Linked DNA regions of Homo sapiens. The protein of the gene in region 1 interacts with the protein of each later gene in a biochemical or structural test. Each region holds a gene or a part of one and is shown in the gene's direction. Other genes may lie near its edges.

Evidence for each region. Proteins that work in one complex are often made in the same cells at the same time.
Region 2: the proteins of RADIL (region 1) and SLC22A3 interact in a test that uses a peptide from one of them, tested with the Homo sapiens proteins (one large-scale study listed by IntAct).
Region 3: the proteins of RADIL (region 1) and MYOZ2 interact in a test that uses a peptide from one of them, tested with the Homo sapiens proteins (one large-scale study listed by IntAct).
Region 4: the proteins of RADIL (region 1) and TMEM178B interact in a test that uses a peptide from one of them, tested with the Homo sapiens proteins (one large-scale study listed by IntAct).

Annotation. Positions count from the first base shown.
Region 1 is NC_000007.14:4,799,645-4,803,716, reverse strand, and holds part of RADIL (ras-associating and dilute domain-containing protein), read left to right. Parts: coding exon 1-171; intron 172-1,721; coding exon 1,722-2,064; intron 2,065-3,406; coding exon 3,407-3,546; intron 3,547-3,947; coding exon 3,948-4,072. UniProt on the Homo sapiens protein: Downstream effector of Rap required for cell adhesion and migration of neural crest precursors during development.
Region 2 is NC_000006.12:160,346,533-160,352,028, forward strand, and holds the start of SLC22A3 (solute carrier family 22 member 3), read left to right. Parts: upstream 1-1,845; 5' UTR 1,846-1,887; coding exon 1,888-2,316; exon of another isoform or gene 2,317-2,490; coding exon of another isoform or gene 2,491-2,526; intron 2,527-2,547; exon of another isoform or gene 2,548-2,653; intron 2,654-3,125; exon of another isoform or gene 3,126-4,138; intron 4,139-5,496.
Region 3 is NC_000004.12:119,183,888-119,188,682, forward strand, and holds the end of MYOZ2 (myozenin-2), read left to right. Parts: intron 1-2,078; coding exon 2,079-2,313; 3' UTR 2,314-3,902; downstream 3,903-4,795.
Region 4 is NC_000007.14:141,076,620-141,081,414, forward strand, and holds part of TMEM178B (transmembrane protein 178B precursor), read left to right. Parts: intron 1-4,795.

The DNA of each region.
Region 1 (4,072 bases):
GTCCTGCCCAGCGACGGCTTCCAGGTGGACTTGGAAGCCAACTGCCTGGACGACAGCATCTACCAGCACCTGCTCTACGTCCGCCACTTTCTGTGGGGTCTGCGGAGCAGAGCCAGCCCCGGCAGCCCTGGCAGGCCTGGCAGTGGGGCCTCCCAGCCAGTGTGCCCCGAGGTACCCGGGGAGGGGGCCCCCCAGCCAGCGTGCCCCGAGGTGCCCGGGGAGGGGACCCAGCCAGCGTGCCCCGAGGTGCCCGGGGAGGGGGCCACCCAGCCAGCGTGCCCCGAGGTGCCCGGGGAGGGGGCCCAGCCAGTGTGCCCCGAGGTGCCCGGGGAGGGGGCCACCCAGCCAGCGTGCCCCGAGGTGCCCGGGGAGGGGACCCAGCCAGCGTGCCCTGAGGTGCCCGGGGAGGGGGCCACCCAGCCAGCGTGCCCCGAGGTGCCCGGGGAGGGGGCCCCCCAGCCAGCGTGCCCTGAGGTGCCCGGGGAGGGGGCCCAGCCAGTGTGCCCCGAGGTACCCGGGGAGGGGGCCCCCCAGCCAGCGTGCCCCGAGGTGCCCGGGGAGGGGACCCAGCCAGAGTGCCCCGAGGTACCCGGGGAGGGGGCCCCCCAGCCAGCGTGCCCCGAGGTGCCCGGGGAGGGGACCCAGCCAGCGTGCCCCGAGGTACCCGGGGAGGGGGCCCCCCAGCCAGCGTGCCCTGAGGTGCCCGGGGAGGGGGCCCAGCCAGAGTGCCCCGAGGTACCCGGGGAGGGGGCCCCCCAGCCAGCGTGCCCCGAGGTGCCCGGGGAGGGGACCCAGCCAGCATTCCCCGAGGTGCCCGGGGAGGGGGCCCCCCAGCCAGAGTGCCCCGAGGTGCCCGGGGAGGGGGTCCAGCCAGCATTCCCCGAGGTGCCCGGGGAGGGGGTCCAGCCAGCATGACCCGAGGTGTCTGGGGAGGGGGCCCCCCAGCCAGCGTGCCCCGAGGTGCCCGGGGAGGGGGCCCAGCCAGCGTGCCCCGAGGTGCCTGGGGAGGGGACCCAGCCAGCGTGCCCCGAGGTACCCGGGGAGGGGGCCCCCCAGCCAGAGTGCCCCGAGGTGCCCGGGGAGGGGGTCCAGCCAGCATGCCCCGAGGTACCCGGGGAGGGGGCCCCCCAGCTAGAGTGCCCCGAGGTGCCCGGGGAGGGGGTCCAGCCAGCATTCCCTGAGGTGCCCAGAGAGGGGGTCCATCCAGCATGCCCCGAGGTACCTGGGGAGGGGGCCCCCCAGCCAGCGTGCCCCGAGGTGCCCGGGGAGGGGGCCCAGCCAGCGTGCCCCGAGGTGCCCGGGGAGGGGGCCCAGCCAGCGTGCCCCGAGGTACCCGGGGAGGGGGCCCCCCAGCCAGCGTGCCCCGAGGTACCCGGGGAGGGGGCCCAGCCAGCATGCCCCGAGGTACCTGGGGAGGGGGCCCCCCAGCCAGCGTGCCCCGAGGTGCCCGGGAGGACAGGAGAAGGGTTGGAAGCTGGGCTGGGGGCAGCAGGCGGGAGCTCTGGGAACCCCGGGAGTCCTGGCCCAGCGCAGGCTGTGCTCCGGATGGCGGGGAAGCCCCTTTGCCTCTTGCGCGTCTCAAGCTGCACAGGCTGCGGGAGTCCTTTGCTGACCTCTGCCCCGCGGCCTGGCGGCCCTTCTGCTGCAGGCTGCCCAGTTGCCCGAGTGCTGTGTCCACCTGGCCACTCCTCTACCTGAGCTGTCACCCTTCCTCTCCCTAGGGTATGCACCACGTGGTCCTTGACGGGCACCTGGAGGCCCCGAGCTGCCCCCTGGCTCCCAGGGACCCTGGCCCAGCAGCCCGGGAAGTGGCCCCGGAGCGTACTCTTCCCTTGAGGGGGGCTCCCTGGGCACAGGCCCCCCCTGGAAGGCAACCCAGCCGTGGGGGCTCCCAGGCTGGCCCCCCGCACACGGACTCGTCCTGCTTGCTCACGCCTCCCAGCACTCCACTTGGCCCTGAGCCTGGGGACCCCGACTGGCCAGAGTCCGGCGGCCCCTGTGGAAAAGCGCTCCCAGAGAGGCAGAGGAACGGACTCAGCGGCCTCCGGGGTGCAGCTCCGGAAGGTGAGCCCTGCCTGGTGCTCAGGCGGGAACCCACCCCAGACCCCGCACAGCACCCTGATGGCCGGTCCCCTGGGATCGTTCCCCCCTTGGGTCCTAGGTTTCCTTACCTGCCCCACAGACACCTGCAACCTGAGACGGGGCCAGATGGAGAGGGCTCAGGGCTGCTCAGCCCCCAGCAGCTGGGCCACACGGTCGCTCAGTCGCTGACACGTCTTGGGCAGATACTCACTGTGATCTGGGAGGGAGAGAGTCTAGAAAGTGGCTCAGAGTCACTCCTGCACTGGGCAGAGGAAGGGATGGCTGAGCCAGTGGAGAGGATGTGCTGAGGGGGAACCCAGGGGTCTTCAGGGAGAAGGTGGAGCTGGAGTCCTCCAGGGCAGGGCCTGTGTGTGCCTGTGTGCTTGTGCGTGTGGATATGTGTGCTCACAGGTGCATGGGTGTGCTGGTGCGTGTGTGCATGGGTGTGTGCATCTGCATGGGTGTGTCTGCATGGTGTGCATTGTGTGTGCATCTCTGCATGGGTGTGTCTGCATGGTGTGCATTGTGTGTGCATCTGTGCATGGGTGTAAGTGCACGTGTGCATGGGCATGCTTGCACATGTGTGCATGGCTGTGAGTATATGTGTGCATGAGTGTGTGTGCGCAGCTGGCCTAGGCTGGGGAGGGCATTGAGGGTGAGGCAGCCCCAGCCGGCCCTGGCCTCCTGTGAGGGGCTTGGGTGTGCCTTGCAGGAGCGAAGTGTCCTGGGTGCGTGTGCAGAGTCAGAGTGTCCCCTGTGGCTTGGGGCCACCTGGCCAAGCTGGGTCCCAGGCAGGCCACTTGCTCAGGTGCACAGCTCATCTCTGACCTAAGTGCACCCACGGCAGGATCACCATTATGGAGAGGGCACCAGCTGGTGGCCCTCAGGGCAGGTGCTTGGGCTGGGCTGGGCTAGGGCCTGGGGCCCCGGTCTGGTCAGCGGTGGGAACCCTCAGGGTGCACATGGCCACATCTGGGTGTGGAGGGAGGAGGAGGAGGAGCAGAGATTGCTGAGGAGGTGGCACAGAACCGCGTGGGTCCCTGGAGCTGGAAAACAGCCGCCCCCAGAGGGGCGAGTGTCCTGGGACTGCCAGGGGCGGGGACTGAGGTGCTCCCTCAGGGAACATGGGGGTGTCGCCCATGGGCGGACCCCGACCCTAATGTCTGGGTTGCCGGTCACATTCTGCCTGAACAGCGTCTCCTGGGAGCCACAGGAGGCCATCCCATCCCTGACGCCCTACAGAGGCAGCCAGGCCAGGACATCCCATTCCTCGTCGTGATTCCTGGCGCCTCACTCCCACCCACCTTTCCTGGCCCCCACCCAGGAGACTCTGCAGCCCTTGCGGAGGAGTCCCCTCCAGCCCCGTCCAGCCGCAGCTCCAGCACCGAGGACTTCTGCTACGTCTTCACGGTGGAGCTGGAACGAGGCCCCTCCGGGCTGGGGATGGGCCTGATCGACGGGATGGTGAGTGGCCCAGGACCCTCGCCGCACCCCCATACTGGCTGCCTGGCCCCGCCTGTTCATGCAAGCCTGGCCGCAGCTTGCGTGGCCACGTGGCTACAGGAAGGCCTTCGGGGAGGAGAGTGGGGTTGGCCTCTGCAGCTGGGAGGGGAACCCAGCCTGTCCAACGGCCACGCCCCCTGGGCCTGCTGTCTCTTGCCTCTGTCCTCAAGCCTTTGGGGTCTGTCCTGGGCCTGTGGGGACGGTGGTGTCCACTGCTTTTCTGGAGGGACGCGTGAAACCATGAGTGGGCCTGGCTGGATGCCAGGCGGGGGCCTGTAGGTGCCAAGGGAGGGGCTGCAGTGGTCCTCGCTGGGGACAGCCAGTCGGGCCTGCGGAGCTCTGAGGCCTCTGCTTGTCCCCAGCACACGCACCTGGGCGCCCCCGGGCTCTACATCCAGACCCTGCTCCCGGGCAGCCCCGCAGCGGCCGACGGGCGCCTGTCGCTGGGGGACCGTATCCTGGAGGTGAATGGCAGCAGCCTCCTGGG
Region 2 (5,496 bases), on another chromosome or scaffold:
GTTCCCTGAAAATTCACTGACAAGAGGCAGATGGCTAGAAGAAAAGGTGTACTTATTTATTTAAGGTGTACATGGGGGCCTTCAGAAGGAAGGCCCAAAGATACAGGGGAAATTGCCTAGTTTTATGCTTAGGTTCAACAAAACATGGAGAGCCCTGTCGAAATAGGATTGGACCAAAAGGGTGTGATCTGATGCTGATACTGAGTGAGGAAACCCAGCGAGGCCGGTGGCTCTAGATTCTTCTTGGCCTCTCTGAGCAGCCTTTTTTTCCTTCTGGGTAAGGGGCAGGTTCTTCTGTGGAATGGGAGGTCTTAGGACTGCAATCAACAAGGTAGAACAGTTGATTTCTTTATGGCCAGTTTTTACACAGACAAGTGAGGGAAAATCACAGTGATATTTTTGTTTTATGACTGGCTTTGGGGAAAAGCGTTCTGGTTTCGATGGCTAGCCTGGGGGAGAATGGGACCGAGAGACAGGAGGGCAGAAGATGACACAGAGACTGCTTCTGAGGCCTTCATTTTGGCGTATTGTTTTCTGAGCTCCAACATTGGCAAAAGGGGTTCCAAGCCGAGATGACCTAAGAGTACAGGCCTGAGGAGTGAGTGGTGTCCCCGCCATACTGAGGTTCTGAGTCTGGGCCCAGGACATGGTTGCACCGAAAGGCAGGGCAGGAAAGGGGAGCTGGGTTGGAGGGGGACAGACTGAGTCTGGGGTCCAGCGGGCAGTTGAAACTGCTGGTGAGGACATGAGGCCAGTTTGAATCCAAGCAGCCTGGCTTCAAACTCCTTGTTCCGGAGGAGGAACCGCAAGTCCTCCCAAGGCCTTGGAGAAAAGTGAGCTAAAGGCAGAACGTGGGCCGATAACGTGGGGGCGTGGGGGGACCGCGACCCAGCCCGGGGAAGGCGTCCCAGCATGGACCCAGCAGCCTGGGCAGCCTGGGCGGGAAGTTCTGATCGCGCTCTGCCGAATTGGCAGGCGCAATAAGTAAGCGGAAAAACCAGGATTCAAACCAACCACCAACACCCTTCCCTGGCGTTCAGACCGAAGGTGGGTGGGAAGGCCCTGGCGAAGGAGGTCTGCATCAGGCCTGGCCTTGAGGCGATCCCTTCTCACCCCAAACCTCCTGGACGCTGAGCAAGCCCCTTCGCCTGTGTGGGTTGCCCGGCTGCCCTCTGGGGAAAGTTGGGTGATCAAATCCCAAGTTGTAGCTCTCGATGGGTCGAGGGCGATGGCCAGCGCTGTGCTGGGAACGGGCAGCCCTGCCCTGCCCTGCCCTGCCCTGCCCTGCCCTGCCCTGCCCTGCCCCACATGGGCGCAGGAGGCCTCCGCACGCGCAAGGGCCAAGGGCTGGAGGGGGCTCTCCCGGGCACAGGCACCGGACCCGGGGCGCGCGCGCGCGTCCTTAGTCCCCGGGCTGCACTCCGGGCCGCTGAGAGATCGGGTCCCAGAAGTTCCGGGAGTGGTCGGGTGACCCTGGAACTTTCTTCTTCTGGAGCCCGACCTGGGGCTGACTGCAGAGCAGGCTGCTGGCAGGGACCAAAAGGAGCTCCGCGCCAGGCCGGAGGCTGCGCCCGTCACTCGCGGTCCCGGCCGGGTCCCTGGCGCGTAGTCAGGCCGCACCGCCCGAGCCCCACCGCGCGCCCACCCCGGCCGGGTGCGTCCGGCTCGCGGCCGTCCCTCCCGCGACCTGTGGCCCGGGGCTGCTGCGGGCGCCCGGGGAAGAGAGGCGGGGGCCGCGGGGGGCAGGAGGAGCGGCTGCGGCCGGCACAGCGCCAGGGCGAGTGAGGCGGGTGGCGCGGGGGAGGCGGCGGAGTAAAGAGAGGCCGCCGGCTGGGTCCGCGGGTCACTCCGAGGCGCGGGCTGCGGGCGGCGGGCGGCGGGCGCACCATGCCCTCCTTCGACGAGGCGCTGCAGCGGGTGGGCGAGTTCGGGCGCTTCCAGAGGCGCGTGTTTTTGCTGCTGTGCCTGACGGGCGTCACCTTCGCCTTCCTCTTCGTCGGCGTGGTCTTCCTGGGCACGCAGCCCGACCACTACTGGTGCCGCGGGCCAAGTGCCGCGGCGCTGGCCGAGCGCTGCGGCTGGAGCCCGGAGGAGGAGTGGAACCGCACGGCGCCCGCCTCCCGCGGCCCAGAGCCCCCCGAGCGCCGCGGCCGCTGCCAGCGCTACCTCCTGGAGGCGGCCAACGACAGCGCCTCCGCCACTAGCGCTCTCAGCTGCGCGGACCCACTCGCCGCCTTCCCCAACCGCTCGGCTCCCCTTGTGCCGTGCCGCGGCGGCTGGCGCTACGCCCAGGCCCACTCCACCATCGTCAGCGAGGTAAGGGCGCCCCGGCCCTTTGGAAGCCGGCGGGAGAGGACGATGCTGGCTCCCAGGCGGACAAGCCGCGTGTGAGACGCTGGCCGCCAGGGGAGGTCGGTGGAGACGGGGACCGGTCGGCTACCTCTGGGGACAGACAGGATTCAGCGCACCCTTGGAAGTGCCGCGTCGTAAATGCTGGGAAAAGCCTTTCGTTATCTGCCTGAGCCCGTGAGTTAATGCACAGATACTTTGGTTTCGGGTGTGAACAAAAACTTTCTTCGAAGCCGAGTTGTAAACGCCTGGCGCACGCCTGCTCAGGAGTCAAAGACCCAGCACCGCGTTCCTTATCTTTGAGGTGTGCGGGCGCCGTCATTGGAAATTATGGTTAGGTGCGCGATAGGGAACTTCAGTCTCTGGGGTGAGCGACGTTGGCAGTTCCGGATTCGCTTATGGTCTCCAGGGTCAAAGGAAAGGGCGAACCAACGTTTGAAGGCAGCAGCAGCTTTTTTCCAGTTGCCCAAATGGTTACTCAAAATGCAAGGGGACAAAGGTCGAGGCTTTCCCGGGGAATGGTTTTGGTAAAATTGCTTTGGGGCAAAGAGCAACATCTGGGATAAGTTGGGAAAACTGAAGTATTGGATAAATTTTAGTTTTTTTTTCTGGTAATAAATTTTAGGAACATAGCGGGAGGGCCACAGCCTTCCAACGCAAATCCCCAACCCATTTACAGGCGGAGGCTGCTGCCGGCGGGTGGGCGGGGGCGATCCCCACATTTTGGGCAGTCAGTGCATTTGGAAGTTAGGGGAGCTTCCTTCACCCTTGCCCTCAGTAATCTGTTTCTGCATCCTTGCTGAAATGGAAGATTGCCTCTCTGTGAGGTCCAGATATAGAGCAGAGTCACTTTGTAATAATCGGAACTCAGAAACGGCCTCAATTGAGCATGGGTTGCAGAGATGAGCAGTTTTACTGAGCTTTGTCTACAATCACAGCTTAAGTTAATTTTAAAAAAAGATTGAATGTGATCAGGTACATTAGGAAAAAAGGTTTGTCTTTTTTTTGTGATAAACTTTAAAAAATCACCTACTTGAAGAGTGGGGAAAACACTGGATGAGGAGGTAGGAGCGCCCTTTCTGCCGCTGTTGCTGTTGGTCTGGTGAGCTTATCTCGCTGCAGTTGGGAGTGTCGGTGGTTGCAATTGTACATGTTTTATACGCCATGTGCTGGTGTGTTCGCACAGTGGATGGCTCTATGCTATGTGCTCCAGGGATAAAACCCATGGCAGGACAGCCAGGCGATGTGTGTATGTGTTTGGGATCTTTCTGTAACGCCGTGTGCTGCTGTGTTCGCACAGTGGATGGCTCTATGCTAAGTGCTCCAGGGATAAAACCCCCTGGCAGGACAGCCAGGCAATGTGTATGTGTGTTCAGGGTGTTTCTATAATGCCACATGCAAGTGTGTTCGCACACTGAGTGGCTCTATGCTGAGTGATCTCAGGATAAACCCCCCTGGCAAGACAGCCAGGCAATACATATGTGTGTTGGGATCTTTAATTTCTACTTAATCCATGGTAAGGCTGGGGACTGCTTTATAATTGGTGATGGTCTGGTTAGAGATTTCACAGTTGAAAGGACAGGGCATGGACTTGGATGAGAGAGGGCATTATCTCTGTGAGTCGCATCTGTTAGGTGGCTTCTTCCACTCCACTCAGCAGCGCTGCCTAATGCTTACTTCCCAAGTGAACCAGAGGACCCACATGGAGGGCAGACAGCTGATTTTTGGAGACATTTAAAGATGAAGAATAAAACGAGCCTCAACAAGTGCTCAAGCGAGGTTTGCATGAGTGAGTATGATCCATGGACATCAAAGAAGACAGACATAAAAATCTGTAATTTAATGCTCTGACGGATACTTTGGAAGCATTCTGGAGTTGCAGGGTTACTAGCATCCCGGGGTTACAATAAGGTGATTTTATGAAGATCAGTGGCTACTAAAATGCAGTGTGGAATGATGGAGGGTCAGGGGCTGGCTCGGTCTCCAGCTGGCTGTGTGGCTTGGGTGAGTTACTCGCCTTCTCTGGGCTTGTATTTTTCCTCTGTAAAATTAGCCATTGGATTCAGCCCGTTACAATGCTCCAAATGCCATCAGGGTCACCACCTGGTTACTGTTTGGTGTGCCCAGAACAATGATTAAAAAGTCTTTAAGAAAGTAGAATGATATTAGGAATGTACCCCGTAAAGCCCCAAAAAAGTTTTTGAAATATATTGGAGAGATTCTTTTTTGTTTTGTTTTGTTTTGTTTTCTTTGAGACGGAGTCTCTCTCTGTCGCCCAGGCTGGTGTGCAGTGGCGTGATCTCGGCTTACTGCAAGCTCCGCCTCCCAGGTTCCTGCCATTCTCCTGCCTCAGCCTCCCGAATAGCTGGGACTACAGGCGACTGCCACCATGCCCGGCTAATTTTTTGTATTTTTAGTAGAGGCGGGGTTTCACTGTGTTAGCCAGGATGGTCTCGATCTCCTGACCTCGTGATCCGCCCGCCTTGGCTTCCCAAAGTGCTGGGATTACAGGTGTGAGCCACCGCGCCCAGCCTCTTTTTAAATTCCAAATAGTTTTGTGCTTCTTTTGGTTTGTTTTTCATGTTTGGTTTCTTAAGAGGAAAACCCCCATCTATTCATAAAGTTCAACTATCCAAAACAAGTCAGCAACTCTCTGAATTCTGCATAGCTAATATTTTGCTGTCTTTGGTTCAACTAATTTTTTTCTTTCAAATTCTGTCTGATGAAAGGAACTGTAGTTCCATCTTCAGCTAACATTATGTATCCAGTGTATTTTTATAAACTTGAAGCCTAAGATACAAATCATGCAAAGGGGTGAATTGGGAGAGTTTACAAAGTGGGCGGGATGACCAGACTCCAGAATGCCTCCATATAGCTATAATACTTCATCCTTGCACCATGGTGGGAGGGGTATCATTGTCCTGGCTTCATAGAAGAGAGACCTGAGGACCTTCCAGGGTCCCACGCCATTTATGTAGCCAAACTGGATTCAAATCCGGGGGCCTTGATTGTAAGTCAGTCCACTTTCCTCCATAAAGTGCTCAAAATCCTTCAAGCAAGTCCATGAAACATAGTACTCAGATCTCTCACACTTTATAACCTGCAGAAACCTCGTTGAAACTTTGTATTTATTTTCTTACTATCATG
Region 3 (4,795 bases), on another chromosome or scaffold:
CACTGAAACCTCCACCTCCTGGGTTCAAGGGATTCTCCTGCCTCAGCCTCCTGAGTAGCTGGGATTACAGGCATGCGCCACCATGCCCTGCTAATTTTTTGTATTTTTAGTAGAGATGGGTTTCTCCATGTTGGTCAGGCTGGTCTCGAACTCCCGACCTCAGGTGATCCATCCACCTTCTCCTCCCAAAGTGCTGGGATTACAGGTGCGAACCACTGGCACTGTTGTCTTCTTATAATCTGTTCACACAGCAATAGCAGCCAGAATGACCCTTATAAAATGTAATTAGGTTATATAATCTCCTGCTTACCATCCTACAATGGTTGCCCTTCACATTTAGAAGGAAATCCATATTCCTTATTTAGAAAAAGTCCCACACAAGTTTACCTCTCTGTCCCCTGTTCCCTCTGCCCCACCCTCACCTGCTAGCCTAGGAACATAAGCCTTCTTTGTTTCCTTGAACACGCCAACATTATTTCTGCCTTAGGGTTCTTGGCATTAGCTATCCTGTCTACTGGAAGTGCTGATGTACTTTAGCCATACTGTACATGTCTAACTTCTGACCTTCAGATGGCTGTTTAAATGTCGCCTCTTCAGAGAAGTCTTCCCTGGTGATTCTATCTGAAATAACTTTTTAGTAATTCAGTTATTCAATATTATAACACCCTATTTTAACTTTATGCATAGCTGCTATCACCATCAGATATTTTTGTATATGTTTATGTTTAGGGTCTCTTTCACTAGAATGTAAGAACTAAGACTTTGATTATACTGCACACTTGAAACTCTGTCTGGCACTGAATGAGTAATCAAATGCTTAAATCAAACAAAGCAAAAAAGTTATGTGGGATCTTGAATGACAAGATATAGAAGTTGGGCTTTATTCAGAAGACAAGTGGAAGAATGCTAAGGTTTTTGAGGTAGAAAGATGCAACAGACATACTGCTTGACCTAAAAGAGTTTATAATTCACAGATAACCCAAACAGATAATCCACATTCTTAAAAGGAGAAGCTCAATACAAAGCACCATTTCATTAGTAGCAAATGACTGACATAGAACAATTGATGCTGCAGGAATGTGGCTAAGAAAGTGGGCAGGGATAGTTTGAAGGAAGTTAGAACTGCAAGACTATAGGACATACACAAGTGGAGAAGTCAGGGAGGAAACTGCCTCTCTTTTATTTTCCTTTTCTTTCCTCTTCTCCCCTCTCCCTTCCCTTCCCCTCCCCTCCCCTTCCCTTTCCTTTTCTTTTTTTCCTTTCGTTTCCTTTCCCTTCTCCTTTCCTTCTTTCTTTCTTTTTTTCTGAGATGAGGTCTTGCTATATCACCCACGCTGGTCTCAAACGCCTGGGCTCAAGTGATTCTCCTGCTTCAGCATCCCAGGTACTTGGGATTACAGGTGTAAGCCAATGCACCCAGCAGGGAATATCTTTTTTTTTTCTTTTTAGACAGGTTTCACTCTGTCACCCAGGCTAGAGTGCAGTGGCATGATCTTGGTTCACTGCAACCTCCGCCTCCTGGGTTCAAGTCATTCTCCTGCCTCAGCCTCCTGAGTAGCTGGGATTTCAGGTGCCCGCCACCATGCCCGGCTAATTTTTGTAATTTTAGTAGAGACAGGATTTTGCCATGTTGGCCAGGCTGATCTTGAACTCCTGACCTCAGGTGATCCTCCTGCCTCGGCCTCCCAAAGTGCTGGGATTATGGGCATGAGCCACCACGCCCGGCCTAGAAATATCTTGAATAGGGGAAATATTGTTGGTAAAAGTACAAAGGCAAGACATGTCTGTAATGAGCTCAGTGTACAGGGAATAGATTAGTCCAAAACTAATAGTATATACAAATGAACTTCAATGAATTTGTTATCAATATTTGGTTTTTCATAAAAACATGGTCTTTAAAGTAGAAATGCTTGCCTCAGAGGTCACAAAATGACAGTCATTCATAGAATATAAGTAAGCCCATAAAATAATGAATTAAATACACCCATAAAATCATGCCTATAAAATTATGAAATTGTTTTCTATTTTGACAAATTTGAATATTAATTGAGATCTGTTTTTTTTTTAATTTCCCACAGGGTTGCCACACCATTTGGAGGTTTTGAAAAAGCATCAAGAATGGTTAAATTTAAAGTTCCAGATTTTGAGCTACTATTGCTAACAGATCCCAGGTTTATGTCCTTTGTCAATCCCCTTTCTGGCAGACGGTCCTTTAATAGGACTCCTAAGGGATGGATATCTGAGAATATTCCTATAGTGATAACAACCGAACCTACAGATGATACCACTGTACCAGAATCAGAAGACCTATGAAAAGAAAGTTGTATGTGCCACATAAAACTCTGAATATAAAAGTTGCTGTTCTACTATTTTAACTACTGGCAAAGCCACTTGCATTTTTCATTAGTAGCAACAATAGCAATTTAGTGATTTTCCTTTTCTGACATTCAATTTCAATCTCAGATCAAATACTAATAAACAATTAGAAATCTTACTTTAAAAAACTTATAACTCACTTGTCTTCATTCATAATTTTGTTTTCACCTGGTTTAAAGAATCCAGATATTTTACTGCAAAAGTTCAGATGGAAAAGTAATTGACAGTTTCACCTTTGTCTCATTTTATATGATTTATTACAGTGTAAGTTTTTCAAGTGGAATCTAGAATCAAAATACAGGGAGAGATATGAAGACCTATTCAGAGTTTCATCTGGGGATGAAAGCTATGGAAGATGATGTACAAATGTTATTGATGGAGAAAATGGTTGGGTGTGTCCTTTCTGGTGACCATGAGAAAATAATATGTCTTGATGAAGTCTTTTCATTAGTCACTCTTAGAATTCTAAAGTGCTTTGCACTTTTCAATATGTTTTGAATCATTAGGTAATTTATTCTGGATGATATTCTCCAAAATTCAATTCAGTTATTATATTCATTTAGCATTAAGTCAAGGAGACTGAGAATGACTCAAGGGACGTCATAGTACCATAGTTTTAAGGACCAAGGTGTGCCCAGAATTCAAGTTTCACAAATCCCAATGCTGTGCATTGATTATGTTCAACTTTATGTGTGCATTCTTAGAAGAGTAAGAACAAATAAAGTACACCGTAATATACATATAAATACATTCATGTTTGTGAGAGAAGGAAAGAGTAAGTAATTTGAATTGGCAGCTTTCTTTGCTAAATCTTTAAATTCTGTTAAGATCCTCAAGTAACTGGGGAGTACATGCTTTAGGACACAAACAAAAACAAAGGGCATGAAAGTATCTGAAAGCAATGTAGCACATATCTATCGTAATATATGTAATATATTGACATAAAAGACACAAACTAATATAAAGTTATAGTTATATCTTAAAATATAATTGAAGAAGCATATGACATATAACTTATAGAAATCAGTATCAATTCCTCCCATTTCAATTCAGTTAAGACTTCTGTGATAGATGTTTATAGCAGAGAAGAAATGTCTCATCAATAGAAAACTATCAGATAAAGTTTAGGAGATAGGAAGAAGGACTGTGTGTAGTAATGAAAATACCAAGTTGCAACATTACATGTTTACAAAAAAAAATCTGTGTTTGTAGTGTGGAAGTTGGTGACTGTTTTAATCATCATCTAGACTTGTTAAGTAGAAAAATTTTAAAAATTTGCTTATGAAAATATAACCCCCAGAAAGTAACAATGACAAAGTATTATATTTATATATATTATTGTAGAGAATTTGTATATTTTTAAAGATGTCTTAAGATATCTTAATTTTATTTATAAGTTTTGGTGTTTACCTGTTTTAAAATGATAATGTTGGCATCTGTGATAAACTATCAATGAGGCTCCCATCATGCCATTTTTTGTTCATTTTAATCTTTAAAAAATAAAAATTAGGCATATTAATTATGCATTTTGATGAAATGGTTTAATTCTTTATTAACATCATGAAATGAGTCATTATTTTTAATGAAAATGAAATCTTTTTGCATTATTTCAACCATTTCCAAATATAAACTATATGATCACTGTCCCTATTCTGCCAACCACTGAAAGTAGAGGCCAGCAATTAAGTATGTTAGCTACAGAACAGTACTCCCCAGTATCATAAAAGATAATTTAAAAAGGAAAATCCTGGCCAGGTGCGGTGGCTCCGCCTGTAATCCCAGCACTTTGGGAGGCCGAGGTGGGCGGATCACGAGGTCAGGAGATTGAGACCATCCTGGCTAGCACGGTGAAACCCTGTCTCTACTAAAAATACAAAAAAATTAGCCAGGCGTGGTGGTCGAGGCCTGTAGTTCCAGCTACTCTGGAGGCTGACGCAGGAGAATGGCATGAACCCGGGAGGCGGAGCTTGCAGTGAGCTGAGATCACGCCACAGCACTCCAGCCTGGGCGACAGAGCAAGACTCCGTCTCAAAAGAAAAAAAGGAAAATCCTAAGTGATACTTATTTTTTTAAAAAGATTAGGTAGAAAAAGAAAAAATAACCCTCTGTTCACTATTTTATTTCTTTCTTTCTGGGAAGTGTCTATTAATTCTAGCTCAGCTGACACCTTTAGAAAGGCCAGCATTTCACTCTGGTTGTTACATAATTCAGAATTCAAAAGGAATTTTGAATGGGTTTTCCATTAACCTGAAAAACAGCTAAATCTTTCAAAGTCAAAAGAAATATGATAGTCTCTTTAGAACAACAGAAAGACCGCGACATTTTTTCCACCTGCTTTTGTATAAATAAGATATGGAAAAAAGGAGAAAAAATATTTTTTAAAAAGGTAAAAGAATAAAAATTTGTTGCTGGAGTACTA
Region 4 (4,795 bases), about 140 Mb from region 1:
AGTGACATGTTCTTCCGGTGAAGCTGGAAACAGAGACAGGGAAAGGGATAGGGGAAGAATGTACAACATTTTGATTTTGTATCGACTGATTTTTAATTGCAGCAACAGAAAATGGACATGGCACAGCAGGGGTATTGAATACACTGATACCTAGAGTTGGCAGGGCATTGTATTTCACTTGAACTAATGGAAATGGTGTTCCCCATCGCCCAAAATACAGCAATCACTGTCAGCGGCAAGCACCCGCTTACCATGGCTGTTTCTGTCCATTTGACATTCTTGTTAGGTATTATTGAGATAGATGACATGCCAGCCTTACAAATCTTGAGAGAGTTAAGGTCACTATCTTCATTTTTAACCTCAACACACACTCTTTGAAAACCAGATCTTCCTTTTCTGAGCAGCAATAGACACATTTTGGAAATAAGTGCATGTTATATTAGTAGAATTCACAAGCAATTCCAATAACATATAGAACACAATTTTTACACTTAGTGTTCCTCTTAGATGGGCAGATTTTATAAGGAAGTTAAAAAGAGAAACTGATATCCCTATATTTAAATGAGACATTTTAGAAAAAGATGTTTATCTCACATTATTCATTAGAAACCGCAAAAGAGATCTCAGACCTCTGTCTTCTTTGAAATATCTACTTTGATTAAAATTCTGGAAGATATGTAATGGGCAAGGGAAAAAGAAAACCAGAGAAAAGACTTTAAAATCCGTTAATATATAGGAAAATTAGAGACTTATCTAAATGATCTAAAGAACTTAGTTATTTGTTAAATCGATGTTCATTACATTAGAAAGTGCTATTTGTGCATTTCAACATAAAACCACATAATTAATAAGAAAACGAACATCAAATCTATGTCTGATTTGAAGGTAAAGTCCTCTGGATTCATATTCATTCTGAAATCCATTCCCCTCCAGGACCTTCTGCCATGCTGTACCCACACGTATGCATTTCTCATCACTGTGTATTCATTTGTTTGCATTATTAAACTGTAAGTTCCTAGAGGTCAGGAAAGACCATCATTTGTTAAATACATTCACCAGATGCTTGGTATTTGGGAAATATTTCATACAAATTAGGTTCACAGAAATGTATCCATCCAAGCTTATTCTAATTATAGAAACACTTGTGTGAGAATTTAAGTAAAAAATTAGAAAATCGTGATGGGAAAATATGAAACAGTGTGGCTGTCAGGCCAGGTCAATATTGCAACAAATGCTACATAATCTATGAAGGGACGATTTCTTGAGCTTTGCCAAAGAATAAGGAAAACAGACAATTCTGTTTTGGATAACATGTCACTAAGCAGACACATATCACTTGTGGACATTATTTTTTATGATGGATAAGGTTTTAATTATTTCCTTCTTGGGGGTAAGATTGGATATAGGGTACAGCAAGGGTAGATTACCCTGAATTCCCATTTGTTGGCATCCATGACAAGTCTTAAATCAGGTCCTTTTGTCTTCTTGCTTTTAAATCTCATCCATGTCTCCCTAGTAAGTGACTGCAGGCACTGGGGACAGATCAGTGACAAGATCAGTTTCTGAAATCCAAGAGACTTCCAGACCCTTAGGAGGAGGAGTTATAGGTAGGATTTTGTTCTAGGGAACTCTAAGGGGAAAATTATATTATTTGGTTTGTACTAAAATATTATATTGATATAGTTTGAAATAAGTAGAACTTCAACTGATACTCTAAGAACTTTTTATTATTTGAAAATTGGCCTTATAATAGACTTTGACTTAAAGAGTTCCCATAATCACAGAGTGGTTGTCAATACTCCAAAAGTAATTTTAAGAAAACATTCACATATTTAAAAATTAATAATGGGATCAGCAAATATTTACTACACATGTATTGTGTTATGGGCACACATCGCTAGGATGAAGAAATGCATAAGATCTGGTCCTCAGAATTTGCATAGTCTGTTAGTGTCAGAGAAAATAGGTTACAACTACAGGATGATGAGAGCAGCAACAGAAACAGATGCAGAGGAACACAGAGAAAGTGATGGTGGATTGTGTCGGCAGTAGCGGGAGGTAGGCAGGAGGAGGTTAGGGAAAGTTGTCCTGAGGAAATGAAATCTGAACAAGATGTTTGATAAGGTTTGGAGGTGGATGTGGAGGAAGGATATTTCAGGCAATGGGCCAGCATATGCACAGCCATAGAGGTGTGGAACAGCAGTTTGGCCTTGTGAGTGTTGATTTCTGGGGCAAGGAGAAGGAGCAGACCAGGAGCTGGAGAGCAGCCATGGACCAAGTCAGGGAGCTCGTATATCAAATCCCCTACAGCTATGCTGCCCAGTTGGGGAGCCACAACCCACATGTGGCTGTTCAAGTTAACAATAACCAAAGTTAAATAAAATAGGCTGGGCACAGTGGTTCACGCCTGTAATCCCAGCACTTTGGGAGGCCGAGGCAGGTGAATCACTTGAGTTCAGGAGTTCGAGACCAGCCTCGCCAACATGGTGAAAACCCATCTCTAGTAAAAATACAAAAATTAGCTGGGCATGGTGGTGTGTGTCTGTAATGCCAGCTACTCAGGAGGCTGAGGCAGGAGAATCGCTTGAACCTAGGAGGTAGAGGTTGCGGTGATCTGGTATCATGCCGTTGCACTCCAGCCTGGGTGACAGAGCGAGACTCTGTCTCAAAAAACAAACAAACAAAAATTATTTCCGTAGTTGTATTGGCCACATTTCAAATGTTCAGTAGCCGTATGTGCCTACTGGCTATTGTATGGGACAGTGCAGATTACAGTGAACATTCCCACCATCGGAGAAAATTCTGTTGGACAGCGCCACGCAGAGCCTATAGCCTCTAAAAGAACCAAGCACATAACTTTGTTTCAGATGAGTATAATTCCATGATAACTTGGGTTTAAATTTAAGTATATCATTCTACACTTTAAGAAACTGCTACTTGAATATATTGGGCAGAAGGCTTTAGTTCATGGTCAATTATAGTAAATTTATATTTTAATTTTCTATCATCAACTCACAGAATTCTCACAAGCTTCTCCCTTCTTCCCTCCTGCCCTCTCCATCTCCATTAAACATCACTTGCAAAGTTGGTGGGGTGGGAAAGAGATTAATGATAATTATAGCCAATCTTGATGACAGGTCTCTCCTAAAAGTTTTATATGTATTAGCTAATTTATTGTTCATAATAACCCTAGGAAGTATAAGTATTATTTTAAATTCTCATCCTAAATTTGAGGGAACTGAGGCACAGAAAGGTCAGATAACTTGTGAATTCTCACAGTTAGTTAGGAAACAAAGGTGTCAGAATTTGAATTCTGGCTCTGGATGTGGGAACTCACCCACCACACTCTACCATCATCTTAGAATCTATCGGGGCAGGAGTGAGGTGGAGAAGAAACTGGGATATTGATTCCACAAATTGAGAATAAAAAGGAAATAATACTCTTGGAATCTCAATTCTAAATTGAAGTAATGAGAGTGGCTCACACACCCTGTTTTGAAGCTCACTGACCAAAGTGCATACACATTTTGTCATATAACTTTTGCTTATTTACTTCGCTTGCTGTGGTAGATGCTGAAATTATAGACATGAAGGACACATTCATTCATTCAACAAGTATTTATTGAGGGCCTTTGGGCTGTGCATCAGGTACAGTGTTGGACCAAATGGAGAAGCTTACATTCCAGAGGGGAGAGACGGACAATAAATAAATACTCCACGGCTGGGCACGGTGGCGCACGCCTGTAATCCCAGAATTTTGGGAGGCTGAGGAGGGCGGATTACGAGGTCAAGAGATTGAGACCATCCTGGCCAACATGGTTGAAACCCTGTGTCTACAGAAAATACAAAAATTAGCTGGGTGTGGTGGCGCATGCCTGTAATCCCAGCTACTCGAGAGGCTGAGGCAGGAGAATGGCTTGAATCCAGGAAGCGGAGGTTGCAGTGAGCCGAGATCGTGCTACTGCACCCCAGCCTGGGTGATAGAGCGAGACTCCATCTGAAGAAAAATAGTCATAGAGTAAAAATAATATCTAATATATGAATCGTGTAATATAGCACAGGGTAATGGGCACCATGAAGGTCTGCCCTTACGAAGCGCAAAGGGGAAGAATGACAAGTAAGGCAAAAATGAAATGCAGTCATGTGCCCTGTAACATTTTGGTTAAAGACAGACTGCAGTGGTCTCATAAGGTTATCATGGAGCTGAAAAATTCTTATGGCCTAGTGACATCATAGATGTCACAGTGCAGCAACCCATTACTCCTGTGTTTGGGTTGAGGCTGGTGTAAACAAAGCTACTGCACTGCCGGCGGTATAGAAGTCTAGCACAAACAATTATGTACAGTATGTAATACTTGATAATAAAATGACTGTTACTGGTTTATATATTTACTATGCTATACTTCTAATCATTGTTTTAGAGTGTACTCCTTCTGCTTATAAAAAAAAGTTAACTGTAAAACAGCCCCAGGTGGGTCCTTCAGGAGGTATTCCAGAAGAAGGCATTGTTATCAGGAGGTGACAGCTCCATGTGCACCATTGCCCCTGAAGACTTTCCAGTGGGCTAAAATGTGGAGGTGGAAGACAGCGAGATTGATGATCCCAACCCTCTGCAGGCTTAGGCTAATGTGTGTGTGTGTGTGTCTTAGTTTTTAACAAAAACGTTTCAAAAGTTGAAAAATAAAAAATTTTATAAACAGAAAAAAGCTTATAGGATAAGGATATAAAGAAAGAGCCTGGGTGCAGTGGCTCACACCTGTAATCCCAGCACTTTGGAGGTTGAGGTGGGTGGATC